Linked DNA regions of Homo sapiens: region 2 is linked to region 1. Evidence: fine-mapped expression QTL. Tissue or cell type: monocytes after R848. Region 1 holds a variant in brackets; the other region holds the start of a gene. All regions are shown on one strand. Distances are between the middles of the regions.

Region 1 (7,675 bases):
GATCTTGGCTCACTGAAAGCTCCGCCTCTGGGGTTCAAGCCATTCTCCTGCCTCAGCCTCCCGAGTAGCTGGGACTAAGGCACCTGCCACCATGCCCAACTAATTTTTTTTTGTTTTTTTGTAGAGACAGGGTTTCACTGTGTTAGCCAGGATGGTCTCAATCTCCTGACGTCGTGATCCACCCACCTCGGCCCCCTAAAGTGCTGGGATTACAGGCGTGAGCCACCGTGCCCGGCCAAAAATGAGAACTAATTCTAAAAATAAAGGAATAGAAGAATAAGTAAAAGTGTAAGGGGCAAATGTAGAAGAAAGAAACAAAAAGGTGAGCTTCATCATTAATACAAGTGAGGGAAATGGAACAGAGGAAAAAACAAGGACATGGATGTAGTTAGGATCACATCATTGGCTCTTGTTGGGCCTTGATTGTTTTTCCAGAGCCTGGCAAACAGGATACTCTCAAAAAATATTTGTTGAATGAATAGTACTGATGAGTCAAAGGGTTGAGGACTCAAAAGAATTGGGGACATGGCTGAAGCACTACATGAAAAACTGTTTAAAACCAAATTTAGGGCTGATTAGGCTAAAGAGACTGTGGGGTTAGGAAGAATAGGAGAAACTTTAAGAAGCACTCACAGTAAATTTAACATATTTACTTTTATTTGTCTCTTCATGAACTATCCTCAGTCAATGATGTCAGACATTCACTTCTCCTCTTGCTTTTTGATCTAAGTGTTGCATTATCAGAATGCACATCAGGTGCATTCTGGTGTGACACCATAAGCTGAGACTTTCCCATTGCTCATCAGTGAATGCTAACTGACCTGATCTCTTAATTTTCTTTCTGTATGCTCCCTGCAGTGTGGTCTCTGGAATCCCTCCTGGTGTCGGCCAGTCCTGGTGGTAGTTTTGCATAGTTGAGCTGGTTTCTGCAGTACGATATAATGCTGCAGAGGCAAGGTGCAGGAATGTTGTTGCTGTTATTTTTGAGGAAAAAGGATGACGTGCTGCCTTGGCATAAGGAAACCACTCGGGCCCGACTGCTCTGTCAAATGACTTCCACACCTCTCTGAACTTGAGTATCTCATCTATTACCCTAGGGATTAAGATTAAAGCAGAACCAAAATACTAAAGAAAATTGTTTTTTATGAACACCATCATCTTCTGGGGTTCTTTTGTGACTGATGAATCTGAGCTATGAATGGTTGCGCAGTTCCACTAACCTTAATGGAAAGTATCCTGATGAGAGACTAGTGGCACCATCTATACCCTGCCATTTTAGATACATAAGTAGCGATGTCAATTCAAGAGTAGCAGACATGCAGCCAGGTACAGTGGCTCATGCCTGTAATCCTAGGACTTTGGGAGGCCGAGGCGGGTGGATCACCCGAGATTAGGAGCTCGAGACCAGCCTGGCCAACATGGTGAAACTCCGTCTCTACTAAAAAAATACAAAAACTAGCCAGGTGTGGTGGCAGGCACCTGTAGTCCCAGCTACTTGGGAAGCTGAGGCAGGAGAATCGCTAGAACCCGGGAGGCAGAGGTTGCAGTGAGCCGAGATTTGTGCCACTGCACTCCAGCCTGGGCGACAAGAGCAAAACTCCATCTCAAAAAAAAGTTGTTATGCTCTATTTCTAAAAATAGTATATTATTATTTTTGAAATACTTTCAATTCTCTGCTGGATCAATGTACAAATGTACAATCTGTGGACATGGAGAACCCACTGCATATCCTAAGCATTTACGCTATGTCATTAAAATTAAAATTAGTGGAAACTTTACTTTTGAAGGCTGTGTAGTCTCTATTTAACCATTCACTGCTACCCTGAGACAGTTAAATATAGTTATAATTGTGTAAAACTGAGAATACTGCAACAAACATTTTGACAAACATCATCTCTTTGCATCTCTGATTATTTCCTTACTATAAATTCTTAGAAGTGCTTCAACATTGAAAAGGCTTTTCCTACACATTTGCACATTTCTTTCTTTCTTGAAGGACATCAGTTTAACAGAAATAAAAAAGAACACGAGTCTCTGGCTGGGCGTGGTGGCTCACGCCTGTAATCCCAGCACTTTGGGAGGCTGAGGCAGGCAGAGCACTTGAGGTCAGGAGTTCGAGACCAGTCTGGCCAACATGGTAAAATCCTGTCTCTACTAAATTACAAAAATTAGCTGGACATGGTGGTACATGCCTGTAATCTTAGTTACTTGGGAGGATGAGGCAGAAGAATTCCTTGAACCCGGGAGGTGGAGGTTGCAGCGAGCCGAGATGGCTCCACTGCACTCCAGCCTGGGCATGAGACTCCCTCTCAAAAAATAAAAAATAAAATAAAAAAAAAGAACACAAGTCTCATCAAACCCTCACAACACTGAATATTACCATAAAAACAAACTTGGGCAGGGTACGGTGGCTCACACCTGTAATCCCAGCACTTTGGGAGGCCAAGGCAGGCAGATCGCTTGAGTCCAGGGGTTTGAGACCAGCCTGGGCAACATGGTGAAACCCCATCTCTACAAAAAAAATTAAAAAGTAGCTGGGCATGGTGGTGTATGCCTATAGTCCCAGCTACCTGGGAGGCTGAGGTGGGAGGATCACCTGAGCCTGGGAGGTCAAGGCTGCAGCGAGCCGTGATCACACGATTGCACTCCAGCCTGGGCAACCAGAGTGAGATCCTACCTGAAAAAATAAAAAAACTAAAAAACCTGGTTAATTTGCATTTATTTAATTACTAGTGAGGTGGAACATCTCTTAACACATAAACAGCAAATGTGTGGTAATACTACGTTGCTTGGAAAAAGATTAAAGGAAGGTGCTAATCAGCTGCCTAAAGGAGAGTAGAGCTTTCCTCAAATTACATATGTAGAGGGGAAGGGAATGGAGAAAGAAGAGCTTCTCTAAAGGGCAAAATCAATTCTTTAAAATTTCCTACTTACATCTAATTAATTATATGAGGAAAGAAAAGTCCCCAAAGCTGACAGCCTATGAATCAAACCTCACTTTTTGTATCTAGTCAGGTATTCAGTCCCACCACTTTTTCTTTTGAAACCTATTTTCCCTTCATTCTCAATTCAACTATCTCATAGCCATAGTCATCATCTCACACTCTGAATACCATTACAAACTCATAACCAGTTCCTCAATATCAGCTTCTCCCCACTATAAAATACCTTGTTCACCTAAACGAATCTCGCTTAAACCTCACTTTTATATCACTCCCTCTCCTTACAAACTTTTAATGATCTTCTATTTTTCAGTGTATCAAATCTTGAGATTTTTAAGGCCCTCCATATCACAAGTCTACTCAGCCATTTTCTTAAAATTTTATTTTTAATTGACAAATAATAATTGTATATATTTATGGGGTAGAATGTATACATTGTAGAATGATCAAATCGGGCTAACATATTCATCACCACATATTTATTATTTCTTTGTTTTTCTTGGGAGGGAGTTTTGCTCTTGTTGCCCAGGCTGGAGTGCATTGGCGTGATCTCGGCTTGCCGCAACCTCCACCTTCCGGGTTCAAGCGATTCTTCTGTTTCAGCCTCCTGAGTAGCTGGGATTACAGGCATGCGCCACCACGTCTGGCTAATTTTGTATTTTTTTTTTAGTAGAGATGGGGTTTCTCCATGCTGGTCTCGAACTCCCGACCTCAGGTGATCTGTCTGCCTCAGCCTCCCAAAGTGCTGAGATTACAGGCA[T/C]GAGCCACTGCACCTGGCCAAATTTATTATTTCTCTGCGTCGAGAACATTTAAAACCCACCCTCTTTTTTTTTTTTTTTTTTTTGAGGCAGAGTTTCGCTCTCATTGCCCAGGCTGGAGTGTAATGGCATCATCTCAGCTCACCACAACCTCCGCCTCTCAGGTTCAAGCAATTCTCCTGCCTCAGCCTCCTGAGTAGCTGGGATTACAGGCATGTGCCACCACGTCCGGCTAATTTTTTGTATTTTTAGTAGAGATGGGGTTTCTCCATGTTGGTCAGGCTGGTCTTGAACTGACCTCAGGTGATCCGCCCATCTCAGCCTCCCAAAGTGCTGGGATTAAAGGCTTGAGCCACCGCGCCTGGCCAAAACCCACTCTCTTAACAATTCTGAAATACGGTCACGTACTACATAATGACACTTCCATCAATGACAGACTGCACACACCATGGTGGTCCCATAAGATTACAATGTCATATTTTTACTGTACCTTTTCTATGTTTAGATACACATATACTAACCATAGTGTTACAACTGCCTACAGTTGCTACAGGAACATGCTGTACAGGTTTGTAGAAGGTGCAACAGGCTATACAATCTAGGTTTGAGTAAGTACTGTACATTCCATGATGCTCGCACAACAATGAAATGGCCTAACAGTGCATTTCTCAGAATCTGTCCCTGTTGTTACATGATGTATGATTGTATGTATGTTTTAGCAAATTTGGTGAATTACATTGATTTTCTAATGTTAAACCAACAGGACATTCCTGAGATAAACCCACTAGCCCATGATGTATTATTCTTTTCACATATCCTGGCCATTTTTAATAGACAACAAATGCGATTGAGAGAAAAGTACAATTATATTCATTTAGTAGAACCTATAAAAGCTCTGTAGCTACTGCTCAGCAACATGTTCAATTGAGGTGTTTACAACAAAGGATACAGAGAATCTCCTGTAAGTGTCTAGTCACCTCTTGTTATTTTAAGCATTTAAATATTTCTTGACTATCTGGTTAATTTCCTTCCTGCAAACCTTAATTTTCTACCCTCTGTACCTTGATCCTTAATAGAAACTGTATGAGCAGTTGGGCGCAGTGGCTCACACCTGCAATCCCAGTGCTTTGGGAGGCTGAGGTTGGTGAAATAATTGAGCTCAGGAGTATGAGATCACCCTGGGCAACATGGTGAAACCCTGTCACTACCAAAAAATGCAACAATTGGCCAAGTATGATGGCACGCACCTATAATCCCAGCTACTTGGGCTGAGGGAGGAGGCTCACTTGAACTTGGGAAGTTGAGGCTGCAGTGAGCCCTGTGTTCACACCACTGCACTCCAGCCTGGGTGACACAGCGAGACTGTCTAAAAGAAGAGGCCCAGCACGGTGGCTCATGCCTGTAATCCCAGCACTTTGGGAGGCCAAGGTGAGCGGATCATCTGAGGTCAGGAGCTGGAGATCAACCAACATGGTGAAACCCTGTCTCTACTAAAAATACAAAAATTAGCCAGGCATGGGCCAGACACGGTGGCCCACACCTGTAATCCCAGCACTTTGGGAGGCCGAGCGGGGCGGATCAGCAGGTCAGGAGATCAAGACCATCCTGGCTAACACGGTGAAACACCGTCTCTACTAAAAAAATACAAAAAAATTAGCCGGGTGTGGTGGCAGGCGCCTGTAGTCCCAGCTACTCAGGAGGCTGAGGCAGGAGAATGGTGTGAACCCAGGAGGTGGAGCTTGCAGTGAGCTGAGATCGCGCCACTGCACTCCAGCCTGGGTGACAGAGTAAGACTCCATCTCAAAAAAAAAAAAAAAAAAAAAAAAGAAAAGGAGAGACTTTGTATGAGTTATTGGTTTAATGTCCTCATTTATTTCTATTTTGCATATTCAGGAAATACTGAGAGCCTTCAGAGTAGAATTTGTTAATAGACTGCTGTTGCATTGTATCTTTTCTATTTGCCCTATTGGGGACCCCATTTGCAGATCTGGTTCTCAACTCCCCTCACTTAATGGATTGCAATCAGTCTCCTACACTTTGAAATCTAGGTCAAGAGCCCACTTCATACACATCAGGAAAATAGTAGGGAAAAGATACTCTGCCAGAGGATCAGAATCAATGAGTTCCAGTACTGCTGTATTTTAACTGCTTTTTATCTTTTTTTGGGGGGAGAGGAACTTGTTTTTGCCTGCATTGCCCCTCAGACTTGGTTTACCTGTCTGACACTAGTGCTCATTATTTCCTAGCCTAAGCTGTACAAAGAAACATCTAGGCTCCCACCTTTGTTTTATGTTTCTTTTTTCCTTTTTTTTTTTGAGATGGCGTCTCACTCTGTTGCCCAGGCTGGAGTGCAGTGGCGCAATCTTGGCTCACTGCAACCTCAGCCTCCTGGGTTCAAGCAATTCTCTTGCCTCAGCCTCCCGAGTAGCTGGGACTACAGGTGCACACCATCATGCCTGGCTAATTTTTTGTTTTTGTATTTTTAGTAGAGACAGGGTTTCACCATGTTGGCCAGGCTGGTCTCAAACTCCTGACCTCAGGTGATCTGCCTGCCTTGCCTCCCAAAGTGCCAGGATTACAGGCGTGAGCCACTGCACACAGCCATGTTGTCTAGTTTTAATAAACTCTTATGAAACTCAAAACCAAAGCCATACTCAACATCTAGCGTTGTCTTTTGTTATTCCATCAAATGGTATAAAAATTCAAGAAGAGTTATAATTTAAATTAAAAGTCTAGGCAAATGTCATGCAAGACATTATTTAAATGACTTAATGCCAGAGGTTTAAAAATTTATTTAAAAATTATAGGAGAGGCCAGGCACAGTGGCTCAGGCCTGTAATCCCAGCACTTTGGGAGGCCGAGATGGGCGTATCACCTGAGGTCAGGAATTCGAGACCAGCCTGGCCAACATGGTGAAACCCCACTTCTACTAAAAATATAAAAATCAGCCGGACTTGGTGGCATGTGCCAGTAATCCCAGCTACTCAGGAGGCTGCACTCCAGCCTGGGCAACAGAGCGAGACTCCGTCTCAAAAAAAAAAAAAAAAAAAAAACAAATTTCCCCAGGCAAAAGGAAATCTAATTAGGAAAATGAAAAATGGTTGTTTAGAAGAATATTTTGTGCTGTACTTAGACCACTTCATAAAAAGGTATACTAAGAGTTTCAGTTTGGGAAGACAAGAGTTCTGGAGATTAATAGTGATATTTACAAAACAACGTGAACATATTTAATGCCACTTAACTATACAGTAAAAAATGGTCAAAATGGTCTGGCCGTGGTGGCTCACGCCTGTAATCCCAGCACTTTGGGAGGCTGAGGTGGGCAGATCACGAGGTCAGGTGCTCGAGACCAGCTTGGCCAACATGGTGAAACCCCATCTCTACTAAAAATACAAAAATTAGCCAGGTGTGGTGCACGCCTGTAATCCCAGCTACTCAGAAGGTTGAGGCAGGAGAATCGCTTGAACCTGGGAGGCAGAGGTTGCAGTGAGCCGAGATTGTGCCATTGCACTCTAGCCTGGGCAAAGAGCAAGACTCTGTCTGAAGGAAAAAAAAAAAGGTCAAAATGGTAAATTTTATTTTATACATATTTTACCACAATAAAGAAGGTATACTAATACACTACTTTTTTTAAGGATTATAAATAACCATACTCCTTTATTTTAAGTTCAGTGATACTCTCACTTCTTAAAATTTTTTTTAATTTTTAATTTTTTTTTTTTTTTGAGACAGGTTCTCACTATGTTGCCCAGGCTGGTCTCACATTCCTGAGCTTAGGCAATTCACCTACCTCGGCCTCCCAAAGTGCTACGATTACAGGAGTGGGCCACATGCCCGGCCTCACTTCTTAAAATATTCGGGTTAATAAACATTCTTCAGAAACTCAAGTTATTTTTTAAATTGTTTAACAAATTGCTTGAGCTTCCTCACTACAGGATCTGCTGAAGAGAGGCACAAGAAGTACCTTTAGATCAG
Region 2 (7,675 bases), 150 kb after region 1:
CCTTCAGCAGGCAAAAATGGAATCTACTACAAAGGATAGGATCTAGTACACTGATGAAGGAACCAGACTTACGCAGGTGCTGTACAACCTATATAATTTACTTATTATTTTATTATTTCTCTCCACACTAAAGTGTAAGTTCTACAAAGACAGAGATTTTTTTGTGTTCTGCTATAAGCTACAACGGTACTTGGCACAAAACAGGCATGCAATAAATATCTGCTAAAAGAATGCAGTGGGTTTAAGAGTTAAGGGGTCAAGAAAGCACACAAAGTACAAGTACAGGTACCTTCCTTTTTTTTTTTTTTTTTTCCGAGACTGAGTCTCACTGTCACCCAGGCTGGAGGGCAGTGGCGCGATCTTGGCTCACTGCAAACTTCACCTCCTGGGTTGAAGTGATTCTCCTGCCTCAGCCTCCTGAGTAGCTGGGATTACAGACACTTGCCACAATGCCCGGCTAAATTTTGTATTTTTAGTAGAGAGAGCGTTTCACCACGTTGGCCAGGCTGGTCTGTCTCCTGACCTCAGGTGATCCACCCACTTCAGCCTCCCAAAGTGCTGGGATTACAGGCATGAGCCACTGCGCCCAGCCAAGTACAGGTAACTTCTTTGAGAAGTTTTCCTATGAAGAGTGCAGAGAAATGCAACAGAAGCTGGAGAGGGATGTGGGATCAAATGACTTTTTTTTTTTTTTTTGAGATGTAGTCTCGTTCTATCGCCCAGGCTGGAGAGCAGTGTCGTAATCTCAGCTCACCGCAACTTCTGCCTCCTGGGTTCAAGCGATTCTCCCGCTTCAGCCTCCCAAGTAGCTGGGATTACAGGTGTGCACCACTGCGCCCAGCTACTTTTTGTATTTTTAGTAGAGACGGACTTTCACCATGTTGGCCAGGCTGGTCTTGAACTCCTGACCTCAAGTGATCTGCCTACCTCGGCCTCCCGAAGTGTTGGGATTACAGGTGTAAGCCACAGTGCCCAGCCCAAATGAATTTTTTTTAAGACAGGGTCTGGCTCTTGTCACCCAGGCTGCAGTATAGTGTCATGATCATAGCTCACTGCAGCCCCAAACTCCTAGACTGAAACAACCCTCCCTGCTTCAGCCTCTCGAGTAGCTAGGACTACAGTGGTGCACAACCACCCGGGCTAATTTTTTACTTTCTATTTTTGTAGAAACGGTGTTTCACTATGTTGCCCAGGCTGGTCTCAAACTCCTGGCCTCAAGCGATCTTCCCATCTCGGCCTCCCAAAGTGCTGGGGTTACATGAATGAGCCACCGAGCCTCCCAACACCACTACCCCCGACCACCCACCTTTTAAAAAGATGGGTGATATTAACAGCACGTTTGTGCTGGTGTAAATGATCCAGCAGAAGGAAAATCTGATGATGTAGGAAAGAAAGGAGGAGGCTGGAAGGAAGTCAGTGAATACAGGGAAAAGAATGCAATCTAGTGGTGGACTGGAGGGACTCTTAAATAGGAGCATGGACAGTTCATCTTTTTTTTTTTTTTTTTTTGAGACGGAGTCTCGCTCTGTCGCCCAGGCTGGAGTGCAGTGGCACAATCTCCGGCTCACTACAACCTCCGCCTCCCGGGTTCACGCCATTCTCCTGCCTCAGCCTCCTGAGTAGCTGGGACTACAGGCGCCCGCCACCGCACCCGTCTAATTTTTTGTATTTTTAGTAGAGACGGGGTTTCACTGCGGTCTCAGTCTCCTGACCTCGTGATCCGCCCGCCTCGGCCTCCCAAAGTGCTGGGATTACAGGCTTGAGCCACCGCGCCCGGCATCAGTTCATCATTTTAACAGTGAAGCCAGAGTGTATGGGCAACTAACTGTGGGGTTGTGGGGCTGAAAGAAATGTTAAGGGGGACAGGTGATGTTCTCCTCTGACTGCTTCTCCTTTTTTTTTGAGACTGAGTGTCGCTCGGTCGCCCAGGCCGGAGTGCAGTGGCACAATCTCGGGCTCACTGCAAGCTCCGCCTCTCGGGTTGAAGGTATTCTCCTGCCTCAACCTCTGGAGTAGCTGGGACTATAGGCGCCCGCCACCACTACCGGGTAATTTTTTTGTATTTTTAGTAGAGACGGGGTTTCACCGTGTTAGCCAGGATGGTCTCGATCTGCTGACCTCGTGATCCGCCCGCCTCGGCCTCCCAAAGTGCTGGGATTACAGGACTGAGCGACCGCGCCCGGCCGACTGCTTCTCCTTTCTTAATGAGATATATATTAAAATACAAGTTCATCAGCTTAAAGTAAGAAGCGGGTAGGACAGACTGCAGGTGTAGGAGATGAGAAGAATAGTGTAAAAGAGTGTTGCCTGGGTGCGGCGGCTCACGTCTGTAATAGCAACACTTTGGGAGGTGGAGGTAGGAAGACTGCCTGAGGCCAGGAATTCGAGACCAGCCCAGGCAACATAGCAAGACCTCATCTCCACTAAAAATAAAAAATTAGCCGGGTGTGGTGGCGTGTGCCTGTACTTCTAGCTGCTCAAGAGGCTGGGGTGGGAAGATCCCTTGAGCCCAGGAAATCGAGGTTGCAGCAATACTTCACTGCGCCGCTGCACTCCAGCCTGGGCAACACAGGGAGATCCTGTATCGGAAAAAAAAAAGTGTATTTAGGAAAACACAGATTGGCAGTTTGGGAGATGAAAATTGAATGTAGGAGAATGAACGTCCAGGAAAACACGGTAGACATGACCAAAACACCTTCTTTAGATTAGTGGACTTGTATTAAAAGTGAGATAACTCGGCGGGGCGCGGTGACTCACGTCTGTAATTCCAGCACTTTGGGAGGCCGAGGTGGGCGAATCACAAGGTCAGGAGTTTGAGACCAGCCTGGCCAATATGGCGAAACCCCGTCTCTACTAGAAATACAAAAATTAACCGGCCGTGGTTGCGCGCGCTTATAGTTCCAGCTACTCCAGAGGCTGAGGCAGAAGAACCGCTTGAACCCGGGAGGCAGAGGTTGCAGTGAGCGGAGATGCTGCCACTGCACTCCAGCCAGCCTGGGCGACAGAGCAAGAGACTCCGTCTCAAAAAAAAAAGTGAGACAACTCACCAAGGTTCTGTTTTTCTCCAGCCACTTTCAACAGCCCTTAGTGCGGGTGTGGAATAGGAAAGGTAGATTTAACGAGGTTAGTTAATAAGCAATGTGAAGGAGAAAAATAAAAGGAAAAATGGATTATGAAATATAAAATGGATTACGAGGGAAGCAAAAAGCGTGACAGTAAAAAGGCAGGAGGACAATTATAGGTCCTGGTGGGGTTCAGGCGTTGTTGGAGCCGGGGTTCCAAGTTATTCTTCACAAGTTTAGATTAAGACCATGGAAGTCAGTGACTAAAGCTAAGTTTTTCGTTCCTCTAGATTCTGCCCCAGGAAAGTTTGGGTCAAACCTATCGGGATCCTTAAACCACATTCCACTCCGCCTCCTTTGTCGGGAGGTTTCACAGAAGCGGAAAAGGCGGCTCCCCCTTGCTCCTCCTCCCCACCTCCCCCCTACCTCTAGGAGTTTAGGGCCGGGCCATCCCAACGGGCTGCCCCTCCCAAAACTCACTGTTTGGACAGGTGTTGGGCGTCGCTAGGCGCCGACGAAGAACTTCTTTCCAGTCCATGGCCGACTTCCGCGCAGCAGCTTCTGCATTTGCTGTTTCCTACCTGCTCCACCCCTACCAGCTCAGGCGTCAGCACCGCCAGGCCCCGTAAAGGTTAGGAAGGCCGTCCAACCACCATCTTGATCGAGGGCGGAAGTCTTGGCTAAAGAGGCAAAAACAATTACTGTCACTGCCGCGGAGAATACCGCTACCACGCTGACTGGGGGAAAAAACTATGAAAGAGATGGAAAATGGTTCTCCTTCAGAGGCGACCCAAGCTCACCAAGCCGGATTTTAAAGGCCACGATAAGCCCGCGTTTTCCTTTATCGTGTGCCTTTGGCGCGTGCGCACCACGTGACCCAGGAGTTCATTAGTTCCGGCTTGAGGGAAGCGCCTTCTTTCACAATTTCTTTTCATTGTTCATTGCGGATATCTGGAAGCCTTCCAGGTCCCCTGAATGTAGTAGACACTTCAGCAGCCGTCTCCTACCCCTTTTGCCACTAAATGCTTCAAAACTGCCTTTTTTCCTCGCCGCCGGGCCAGGCGGAACGCCTAAGTCCGGGTCAGTCTCGTCCGTCGGTCGGGGCTGGCGCGGTGCATCGTGGGCACTGTAGTTTCCGCCGCGTTTATGGCCGCGTTAAGTCTGAGTGCCGCTTTGAGTTGTTGAATGAAGTGAACTTCATTTGTCAGCGTTCGGTACGCAGTCTAGGCAGCGCCCTTCCTGTACCTCTCTTCCTTTCCTGAGTCGTTGGCGCAGCTGACTCGCCACCTCCTCCCTCCTCGTCCCCCCACCGGAGGAGTTTTGCGGTCTGTAGAGAGCTATGCAGGGTGAGGGCCCCTAGACTTCGGCTTTCGCCGCTGTTGGTGGTAGGCTGGAGTTGGGGGTCCCTGGATACGGTTTTGGCTTTACACCCCCTTTCCAGCAAGCTTCCCGTGGGAATCTGTTCCTTTTCAGGACAGCTGTGATCCACGTGAGTAAAACTGGGCGTTCCGTCTTGTGCTTTTTCCTCAGGTTCATGAACTGGAATGTAAGAGGCACCAGAGGATTCCTGCTCTGTCCCCTGGTTTGCGGCTTGCGACGTTGGACATCCCCGGATTGTTGTTTAATAGAGAAAACTCACCTGCCTTCTTGCTTTTAAGTAGCCCCAAAAGCAGAACCTTGATTTGTCTGTAAGGAAGAAACACAAACCTTTTAAAAAGTTCCACTTCGACTCTGCACCGCCGACCCCCAATCTCTTTAATTTTGCCATAGAAGAGGGGTTTTTTCAACATCTCTCTCACTATCTGGTGCTGATCTCACTGCATAATGACTTTCTATTTGTTTGGTATTCGAAGCTTTCCGAAGCTTTGGAAGAGCCCATACCTTGGGCTAGGCCCAGGGCACTCTTATGTCTCGCTGTTTCTGGCAGACCGCTGTGGCATCAGGAACCAGCAGAGGTTGTTTTCTCTTAAAACAATGTCTCCACAGAATACCAAAGCAACGAATCTGATTGCCAAGGCCAGATATCTCAGGAAAGATGAGGGCAGTAATAAGCAAGTTTATTCTGTTCCTCATTTTTTTTTAGCTGGAGCAGCTAAGGAGAGATCACAGATGAATTCTCAAACTGAAGATCATGCCTTGGCACCTGTGAGGAACACTATTCAACTCCCAACACAACCTTTGAATTCAGAGGAGTGGGATAAACTTAAGGAAGATTTAAAAGAAAACACCGGAAAGACCAGTTTCGAAAGTTGGATCATTTCACAGATGGCTGGCTGTCATAGCTCTATAGATGTGGCTAAATCTCTGCTGGCATGGGTAGCAGCCAAAAATAATGGTATTGTAAGTTACGATTTACTGGTCAAGTATTTGTATCTCTGTGTCTTTCATATGCAGACATCTGAAGTTATTGATGTCTTTGAAATTATGAAAGCCAGATATAAGACTTTAGAACCTAGAGGTTACAGTCTTCTCATCCGGGGATTGATCCATTCAGACAGATGGAGAGAAGCATTGTTGCTGTTAGAGGACATCAAAAAAGTTATAACTCCTTCAAAAAAGAACTATAATGACTGTATCCAGGGAGCTCTCCTTCATCAAGATGTAAACACAGCTTGGAATTTATATCAGGAATTGCTAGGTCATGATATTGTTCCTATGTTGGAAACTTTAAAAGCTTTCTTTGATTTTGGAAAAGACATAAAGGATGATAACTATTCAAATAAACTACTAGATATTCTTTCATATCTAAGAAATAATCAGCTGTATCCAGGGGAGTCATTTGCACACAGTATAAAAACATGGTTTGAGAGGTAATTTTGGTTTTTTTATATGTATGTTTTTATTCTTTAATTTTTTTTTTTTTTGAGACAGGGTCTTGCTCTGTTGCCCAGACTGGAGTGCAGTGGTGTGTTCATAGCTCACTGTAACCTCAAACTCCTGGCCTCAAGTGATCCTCTCGCTTCAGTCTCCTCAGTAGCTAAAACCACAGGCATGTGCCACCATACCTGGCTAATTATTTTTAATTTAATAACTTTAAACCTCAAAGTAGCCATTCTTTTTTGTTGTTAGTTGCTGAGAATCACTCTTCTGATTATACTTTTTTCCATCTCTTAGTAAGATTTATTTTCTCTTTACGACAAAATTTTCTCTCTTTAAAAAAAGTAACAACATACATAATTTGTGCTAATCTTTACCCATCACATAAAACTGAAATTATATAGCAGTTTTAATTTTTACATTTTTTTCCTTTTGGAAGGATCATTAATTTTGTTTTCTTAGGCATCTAGTATGATGTGAGTACTTAATACTACTTATGGCCACTGTTCATAGCAAGAAAAGAATATAGCATTTGACTAGAACTGTCTCTGGCCATATTAGTATTTTCAGAAGTTCCTCTGAAATCTAGCGACTGAGATAATATGCTTATATTTATTCTGTCTACTCTCTCCCTTTTTTTTTTTTTTGAGACGGAGTTTTGCTCTTGTTGCCAGGCTAGAGTGCAATGGCATGATCTCGGCTCATTGTAACCTTTGCCTCCCGGGTTTTCTCCTGCCTCACACTCCCGAGTAGCTGGGATTACAGGCATGCGCCACCATGCCCTGCTAATTTTCTATTTTCTTTTTAGTAGAGACGGGGTTTCTCTATGTTGGTCAGGCTGCTCTCGAACTACCTCAGGTGATCCGCCTGCCTCGGCCTCCCAAAGTGCTGGGATTACAGGCGTGAACCACCGCGTCCGGCCTATTCTGTCTACTATCTATAGTTCATCAACTTGGATGATTAGAGTGGACAGGGGGATATTGATCAAGCCTTATACGTAAGCATTACAATGGAAAATCTTAACCCTTCCAGTTTGTTTTGGACCTTTCTATCATTTGGCTGCTGTCTCTCTAAAGCTCTCTCCTTTGGTTTGCTTTTGCTTTATTCATGTTACTGGGTACATACCTGTTTATTGCTTTAGTCTTTTTTAAAATTTTTGAAAATTTTTACTTATTTTTTAAAATTAATATTCTTTTTTTAAGAGGTGGGGTCTTGCTGTGTTGACCAGGCTGGACTCAAACTCTTGGCCTCAAGCGATCAGGTGTGAGCCACCATGCTTAGTCATTATTTCTTCATTAATTTGCTTCCTAAAAATTTGTTCCTTCCCTCTGTTTTTCTCTTGCCTTTTTTTCCCCTATATCATGTTTACGGAGCTTTGAAGCAGTAATTATGCTTAATTATCTTAAACTTACTGAAGATCAAGGGAGGAGGAGCCCATTTGTGAAAATCTTTGAATACCAAGGAGTTTGGATTTTATTCTGTTATCAAGAATGCTGGATTTGGCTGGGTGCTGTGGCTCACGCCTGTAATCTGAGCACTTTTAGAGACTGAGGTGGGAGGATAGCTTGAGGCCAGGAGTTGGAGACCAGCCTGGGCATGGTGAAACCCTGTCTCTACAAATAATACAAAAATTAGCTTGGCATGGCGGTGTGTGCCGGTAGTCCTAGCTACTTGGGAGGCTGAAGCAAGAGGATCACTTGAATCTAGGGAGTCAATCAAGGCTGCAGGGAGCTGTGATGGCGCCATGCACTCCAACCTGGGCGACAGAGCAAGACCTTGTCTCAAAAGAAAAAAAT

Alleles and levels. Positions count from the first base shown, and alleles are read on the strand shown. Sizes are in standard deviations (SD) of each study's normalised expression.
For the expression in monocytes after R848 of the gene that starts at base 4,193 in region 2, allele T in region 1 goes with a lower level than allele C (large effect, 0.87 SD a copy in Quach 2016).

The links. PIP is the estimated chance that this variant, and not a neighbour inherited with it, causes the effect.
Region 2: PRORP starts here. The variant in region 1 is fine-mapped to the expression of PRORP in monocytes after R848 (Quach 2016, PIP 0.91).

Annotation. Positions count from the first base shown.
Region 1 is chr14:34,971,121-34,978,795 of GRCh38, forward strand. All of the region lies in intron 1 of SRP54-AS1 (SRP54 antisense RNA 1), which reads right to left. Among named protein-coding and RNA genes, the nearest start is that of SRP54-AS1, 7.6 kb to the right of the region's middle. The variant T/C (reference allele first, on the strand shown) is at 3,703.
Region 2 is chr14:35,118,360-35,126,034 of GRCh38, forward strand. PRORP (protein only RNase P catalytic subunit) reads left to right here and starts at 4,193. Exons shown (of 8, transcript NM_014672.4): 1 at 4,193-4,276; 2 at 4,593-5,872. The coding sequence starts at 4,887. PPP2R3C (protein phosphatase 2 regulatory subunit B''gamma) reads right to left here and starts at 3,631. Exons shown (of 13, transcript NM_017917.4): 1 at 3,543-3,631. The coding sequence starts at 3,600. PRORP-PSMA6 (PRORP-PSMA6 readthrough) reads left to right here and starts at 3,480. Exons shown (of 15, transcript NR_182666.1): 1 at 3,480-3,693; 2 at 4,593-5,872. RefSeq lists enhancers at 2,835-4,034, 3,254-4,173, 3,417-3,546, 4,087-4,166, 4,174-5,093 and 1 more.